Homo sapiens: one gene and its partner. The protein of the gene in region 2 purifies or fractionates together with the protein of the main gene of each other region. This does not show direct contact. Each region holds a gene or a part of one and is shown on either strand. Other genes may lie near its edges.

Region 1 (3,506 bases), on a different chromosome or scaffold from region 2:
AAGATGTTTTAAAACATCAATAACAATGATTTACTTTAAAAGGTAAGCCATCACATTTTTCAGTTAATACATTAACACGCAAACATTATTTGGAATAGGCATTAACCCCAGTGATCAATGTTAAGTACTACTGTTAGTAATTAGTGACTAAAATATTCTTCTAATCTTGCACATGTTTTTAAATAGTGGAAGATATTAGATGACTAGGGTATTAGGTTCTAAAATATCTTATTCTGCTTCTGTGAACTATCATTTTTATTGAATGTATACTGGAATAAAAAGTTAATTGTTCCTTAAAAAAATTCCTTGCATGATTTAACATTTGAATGTAGATATATGACATATGGGCCATGTTATAAATAGTTTCGATACCTAAAATGCCAAAATACCTTTCAAAAATATTTACTTTTAAATACATGCTTCAAAATACAGCTTTTACATTGGTATTGGAAATCTCATAAAGAAGATGACCACAAACAATTTTAAAATTTTTCCATATACTTCCATTTAAGGTTCAAATTTAAATATTATCACTTAAAGCATGTCATATAATCTCCAACAATTATTATAGTATTTTATAATATTATAATGGAATTTCAGAGCCAGGATAAACCTTGGACAGATGTGACCCATCCCCTTCCCCATTATGTACATGAAACGACTAAGTCCAAAGAGAAAAATAACACCCCGATGTACTGTAGTCCTTTGATAATGGAATATAACCATAATCCATGTTTCCCTACTTCCAATTCAATGTGCTATCCATCATATCACATTGAAACCTCTTCTTTAAGATGTATTATTAAGATGTCTTATTATAAGATTAGGTTGAGCCATCATTTTGATTGTCTTTGTAATAAGAATCTACGTTAATAAAGTTTTCAAGATCTTCCTTATATTTTAAAATTAACAAAGTCTAATTTTCCTTTTATGTATAAAGCCCTGTGAATAATAAGTTCAGTACCTACCTGTCAAAGGAATGAAACTGCATAGGAAGAATAGCTTGTGTTTCTCTCTTCAATGCTGGATCTGGGTATGGGATAGGTTCAGGGCCACATTCTGCTATTTCAACTGGAGCAGCCACAAGACTTTTCAGTATTTCCTTCACATTGATGCCTTTGGTTTGACTAATGCTAGATATGGATGTTGCAGGCTTCAACGTTTCACTAGGATTTTCAGTTAAGCTCTCTTGTGATTTCTTCACTTCGGATGACAAAGTGGATAAGAGTTCACTCATGGCATCAGGGCCTGTACTTGTTTCTAATTCTGCCCCATTCAGGATGCTAGCCACTTGCTCCTCTCCAATTCCTGAATCTGTATGGGGAATTGAACTTTCTACCTGAATATCTTCACCAGGAGTTGGTGTTTCTTTTTCTTTTATGGTGTCTGGAAATGCAGCAGGTGTTTCTGTAATGAAAGAAACTAGGTTAGAAAAAAGCTTTGAAAGTAAAAATCTTGTATTATTAATCAAATGTTTTCATATATTCAAATAAAGAAAACAAAACCTGTAGAAACAAAAAATTGCTAAACGGATGTGCATAGTAGTAACACAACTCAGTTGAAAGATATCATCCAGCCAGACATGATGGCTCATGCCTGTAACCCCAGCACTTTGGGAGGCTGAGGCAGATGGATCACCTGAGGTCAGGAGTTCGAGACCAGCCTGGCCAACATGGCGAAACCCCGTCTCTACTAAAAACACAAAAATAAGCTAGGCACGGTGGGATACGTCTAATCCCAGCTACTCGGGAGGCTGAGGCAGGAGAATTGCTTGAACCTGGAAGGTGGATGTTGCAGTGAACTGAAATCATGCCACTGCACTCCTGCCTGGGCAACAAGAGCAAAACTCCATCTCAAAAAAACAAAAAAAAAAACAAAAAGATATCATCCAATACACCTACTATTTTGTTCAGGGAGCATCAAAATAATCCTCTTGCTTCTTAAATCATCTGGCATTTCAAAACTGATGCCTTCAAAAGCATCAGGAAATAGTTCCTATAACAATTTCCTAAAGCAGCTTATAAATAATAATTATATGATGTTCCCCTCTTATCCTTTGATTGTTAGCTGCCAATCATAGAAGAGAAATTCTTATATTTCTCTATTAGTTTCCTTAAAAATATAAAGTCATTTTTATACTTTCTTTGGTACTTCAATAACTAATAATATCTGAAATATTCAAGATAATCGAAGATCATTTTAAAATTACAATACGTAAAATTCTGACACACTTGCAAAATGCAAAGCAAGTCAAATGATTAGTTCAAAAGAATAAATACATTAATAATATAATAATGTTCCTCAAGGACAAGGCCTATATTTTGGAATACTCATGCTCATTCTTTGTAAATAAATATAAATTTCAATTTGTGAAAATTAAATCAGAAACATATATGTGCATATAACTACACAGATAATGAAATACACATATAATATTAACAACTAAAAGTAATGAAATAAAAAAATCTTTAAAATGTTAAATTTCTATCAAATTTCATCATACAAAGGTTAATGTAATAAAGTTCTCCATATAATAAAATGTTACCAAATTCTAAACGATAACCTTGAAAAGTGTATCTCATCTAAGTATAATGGAGATAACAGTCCTTAACTTAATCGTTTTGAATAAAGTAAGATACCATTAAGCTACTATATGTAAATTCACTGCAGTTCTCACTTTAAAGTAGAAGCTCAGTAAATGTTAGCTATTTGTATTGCTTAAACTTGCATTTAAGTTTGAAAGTTTCATAATCTTTGAAAATGAGAAGCACAGACTAAATTATTTCAAAGATCTCCTAAAAATTGAAAATCAGTAAATTCTATATAACTTCTCTTAGATTTTGTTATTATTTGCTTGTTTCTTTGAATTCAAAGGTTGTTAGGACAAGAAACCAGGAAACTGCCCAACAGGAAAATAGGCTACCTTGATGTCAGCAAGACATCTCACAAAATCTTTTGTGAAATCTCTAGTAGAAGTGTTGTTCTGATGATAGAATTGTTGGGTGTGATCACAGCTTCTGAAAGTTTTGTACACACATACTAAAAAATTAAAAACAATATGAAGGGATTTTGTCAGTAACAGACTCAATTCTTGGGTGTTGTCTATTAGACAGTTTTTTTAATTGCTTGAATTTAAACTAATGGCATACCATTCAGATTTCCTGAGGGTGTGAATTTATAATACTTTTTCTAGGATAAGCATCAGAAAAATGTTGCCAGGTTTTGAAATAAAATCTCCCATTTTTTTCTCCCCCTTTTCTTTTGAGTCAAATTATATCAAATCTATACATTAAATTAGGAATAAATAACATCCTCATATTATTCAATATTCCTAATATCAAATACTAATTTAAACTGACTTAAAATATGCATTTATCACAATGCAATGTTATATCATAGTTTTCCTCATATTTGTTGAATAGATTTAAATTTTGTTTGTTTATTTGTTAGTTTGGTCAAAGATGATAGACTGAAAGAATAGATTAATCTGTGGAATATGATAATAA
Region 2 (4,207 bases):
ATTGGACAAGCGCAGACACGCAGGATGTGAGGGTGTTTCCCCAGGGAGGGGAGGAACCAAGAGGCGTATTCTGAGCCCTGAACTGCTCCCCGAACCCTGCTTCCCCCACCTCCGCCCCAGGGGAAGAGGGAGACGCAAGCAGTGCCTCCCTCCCAGCCTCTGACTCCCCAGACAAAGAGTCTCTGTGTCCCTGAAGAGGAGGGGTTGGGGCCCCATCAAGCCTGAGGGGGAGATGGGGGCCCCCCAGGGTGGGAGGAGGAGAGGGTATCTCTGTAAGCTGTGCCTCCTCCCACCCCAGGGACATCTGAGGCTGAGACTTCTCCAACTAAAAGACTCTCACAAAATTCCTGCCCTGCCCTGCCTTGCTGGAAGTTCTTCCTATAGTCTAACTACATCTTCTGACAGTTCTACACCCCTTCCCTCTATGAAACACTTCTGGATCCACATTCTCTGTCTCCTTCTCTCACTCTCTCCCTTCAATCAGAGATTCTTCACCCAGAATACAGACACTAATTCCCCCCAACTTTCACAGAAACTCTCCCCAGCCCTAAATAATTTATACTCGGCCAGGCTCAGTGGCTCATGCTTGTAATCCCAACACTTTGGGAGGCTGAGGCGGCTGGACCACTTGAGGTCAGGAGTTCAAGACCAGCCTGGCCAACATGGCGAAACCTCATCTCTACTAAAAATACAAAAATTAGCTGGGTGTGGTGGCACACGCCTGTAATCCCAGCTACTCAGGAGGCTGAGGCAGGAGAATCATTTTACCCTGGAAAGCTGAGGTTGTAGTGAGCCGAAATTGCACCACTGCACTCCAGCCTGGGTGACAAGAGCAAGACTCTGTCTCAAAATAATAATAATAATTTACAGTCATAATAAAAATTATAAATTAAGAAAACAGTTACAAATGGCCAAGGCAGGAGGATCACTTGAGGCCAAGAGTTCGAGACCAATCTGGGCAACATAGCAAGATCCCATGTCTAAAAGAAAAAGAAATTTAAAAATTAGCTGGGCATGGTAGTGTGCGCCGGTAGCCCCAGCTACTCTGGAGGCTGAGATAGGAGGATCGCTTGAGGCTGTGGTGAGCTATGATGGTGCCACTGCACTCCAGCCTGAGTGACAGAGCAAGATGCTGTCTCTTAAAAACAAACAAACAAAAACCAGTGATGTCTATAGTAGGTGCGGAGAAGAAATGTTTGGCAGATGAAGAAAATGAGGTGCAGAGAGGATTTAAGAGATTCTCTCTTACTGCCTGTTCAGGGTCAGTCCAGAATTGAGGGTCTCCGGGGGAGGGCAGAGGCTTTGCCCTGCAGGGGATCTGTGGGAGGGGGTTAGGAGGGAGCAGATGAGCCCAGGATGAATGGTCAGAGTCAGGTGCTGCCCGGCGGAGGTCACGAGTCCAGGGAGGGGATCAACATGGCCGCTGCACCCCGGACTGTGTTGATCTCCGGCTGCTCATCAGGAATTGGTCTGGAACTTGCAGTGCAACTGGCCCATGACCCCAAGAAGCGCTACCAGGGTAAGAAGTGCAGGGTGGCACTAGGAGGCAGCCGGGTGGAAACGGCTTCCCCAGCACTGTCTCCCCTACCCATCCCTCCCAGCTGCACTTGTGGGCTTGGGGAGACCCAGGATTCCCTCCAGGAATCATCCCCTCATCCTAGAAATATTTCTTGAGCATCTTCTGGGTGCTCTGAATGCTGGCAACACAACTGGAGATGAAATAGACAAAAATCTCAGCCCTCAGGACGGGTGTCATGTGGGGAGGAGAGGGAGAATGGGTGATAAACAGATAAAAAGAAATTGTTGCTCTATCTGGTGGGAATAAGTGCTGAGACACAAAATAAAGCATGCTGAGAGTGGCAGGGGGTGGGTGGGGGTTATTTTTAGAAGGGTTTCACTAGGGCATTTCCTAGATTGGAATAATCACTACCCTGATGCTCACTCTTCCACGTCTCCCCAGATTATTGCTTTTACTGAGATAAGCTTCTTAAGTGCTCCTGACCTTGGGGGTTGAAGGGATGGCCTTCTAGTTCTAAGAACTTGCCCTTCTGCACCTCTAGAATAAATCCCTGGGACCTGCATCCTAACCAACCAGGAGAACCCCTGACCCAGAGGGAGCATGCTGGAGTCAAAGTGGGCAAAGGGTTGTTACTTACAAAGAGGCGACTGGGGGTGAGGGCATTGCCCCAGTTGGCAGGGCTGCTTCTCCCAGCCCTCTGCCCTCTGTTTTAGAGACGCACACAGCTTTGAGCATGACAGCCTGAATGCCAGTGTGCAGGGAATAACGTGTGTCCCTATGGGCGGGCAGATGGGTGTATGAAACTGCTGGAGGCTAATGTTTATGGAGCTTTTACAATGCACCAAGCTGCATTCTAAGTGCCCTGAATCCAGGAAGTCATTTAATCCTCACATCACACCCGTGAGGCAGGCACAATCATTCACCCCATTTTATTATTATTTTATTATTTATTTATTTTGAGTCAGAGTCTTGCTCTGTCACCCAGGCTGAGTGCAGTGGTGCATCTTGGCTCACTGCAGCCTCCACTTCCCACGTTCAAGTGATTTTCATGCCTTGACCTCCCGAGTTTCTGGGATTAAGGCATGCACCACCACACCCGGCTAAGTTTTTGTATTTTTAATAGACAAGGTTTCACCATGTTGGCCAGACCGGTCTCGAACTCCTGGTCTCAGGTGATCTGCCTGCCTGGGCCTCCCAAAGTGCTGGGATTACAGGCATGAGCCACCGTGCCTGGCCTGCCCTATTTTAGAAATGAGGAAACTAAGGTGCAGACTGTGAAAGGTCTTTGCTCAAGGTCTCCCAGCTGCAAAGTAGCAGAGCTGGGATTTGAACTCAGGCAGCCCATCCCTTGCACCCATGTTTCCCACTATATCACATGTAGATGCAAGTGACCCCATTCACGTGCCTGCTACCCACAAATCACACTGACCCGAAGACAAGAGGCAAATGCCCCCAGGAGTGTTCATGGGTGATTATGGGTGCACACATTGGGGGATATCAAACACGTATGCTGGTGCATGTGCAGACATAGTACATATGCTGAGGTCCTGCTTAAGAACATAAGCTTGAGGCTGGGCACAGTGGCTCATGCCTGTAATCTCAGCACTTTGGGAGGCCTAGGTGGACAGATCACCTGAGATCAGGAGTTTGAGACCAGCCTGGCCAACATGGTGAAACCCCGTCTCTACTAAAAATACAAAAAATTAGCCAGGCGTGGTGGTGGATGCCTGTAGTCCCAGCTATTCGGGAGGCTGAGGCAGAAGAATGGCGTGAACCTGTGGGGTGGAGCTTGCAGTGAGTCGAGATCATGCCACTGCACTCCAGCCTAAGCGACAGAGCATGACTCTGTCTCAATAAATAAATAAATAAATATACAAAAATTAGCCAGGCATGGTGGCAGTGCCTATAATCCCAGCTACTTGAGAGGCTAAGGCAGGAGAATTGCTTGAACCGGGAGACAGAGGTTGCAGTGAGCTGAGATTTCACCACTGTATTCCAGCCTGGGCACCAAGAGCGAGACTCCGTCTCAAAAAAAAAAAAAAGGGCATAAAAGCTTGGCCAGGTGCTGTGGCTCTCTGGCTCCTCACGCCTGTAATCCCAGCACTTTGGGAGGATGAGGTGGGCAGATCACCTGAGGTTCGAGACCAGGCTGACCAATATGGTGAAACCCCGTCTCTACTAAAAATACAAAAGATTAGCCAGGTGTGGTGGCAGGCACCTGTACCCCTGTAATCCCAGCTACTCGGGAGGCTGAGGCAGGGGAATTGCTTGAACCCAGGAGGTGGAGGTTGCAGTGAGCCGAGATTGCACCCCTGTACTCCAGACTGGGCAACAAACAAGAGTGAAACTTCGTCTCAAAAAAAAAATATATATATATATATGGCTATTCACTTCAGTGTTCATATATGCACATATGTTGGCTATAGTTGTGTATGCATTTTTTTCATGGCAATCTGTTTTATGTTTATATATTTTATTGTCTTACCTACTAGGCTATAAATTCCATGAAGGCAGAAACTTTATCTTATTTATTTATTTATTTATTTATTTATTTATTTATTTATTTTGAGACAGTCTCGCTCTGTTGCCAGGCTGGAGTGCAGTGGCGCTATCTCGGCTCACTGCAAGCTCCGCCTCCCGGGTTCACGCCATTCTCCTGCCTCAGCCTCCCAAGTAGCTGGGACTACA

What was found. The genes of interacting proteins can lie anywhere in the genome.
Region 1: the proteins of RDH8 (region 2) and NBEA purify together in Homo sapiens (affinity purification with mass spectrometry; one large-scale study listed by BioGRID and IntAct). This does not show direct contact.

Annotation. Positions count from the first base shown.
Region 1 is NC_000013.11:35,193,765-35,197,270, reverse strand, and holds part of NBEA (neurobeachin), read right to left. Parts: intron 1,408-3,506; coding exon 969-1,407; intron 1-968. UniProt on the Homo sapiens protein: Binds to type II regulatory subunits of protein kinase A and anchors/targets them to the membrane. May anchor the kinase to cytoskeletal and/or organelle-associated proteins.
Region 2 is NC_000019.10:10,012,082-10,016,288, forward strand, and holds the start of RDH8 (retinol dehydrogenase 8), read left to right. Parts: upstream 1-1,401; 5' UTR 1,402-1,416; coding exon 1,417-1,519; intron 1,520-4,207. UniProt on the Homo sapiens protein: Retinol dehydrogenase with a clear preference for NADP. Converts all-trans-retinal to all-trans-retinol. May play a role in the regeneration of visual pigment at high light intensity.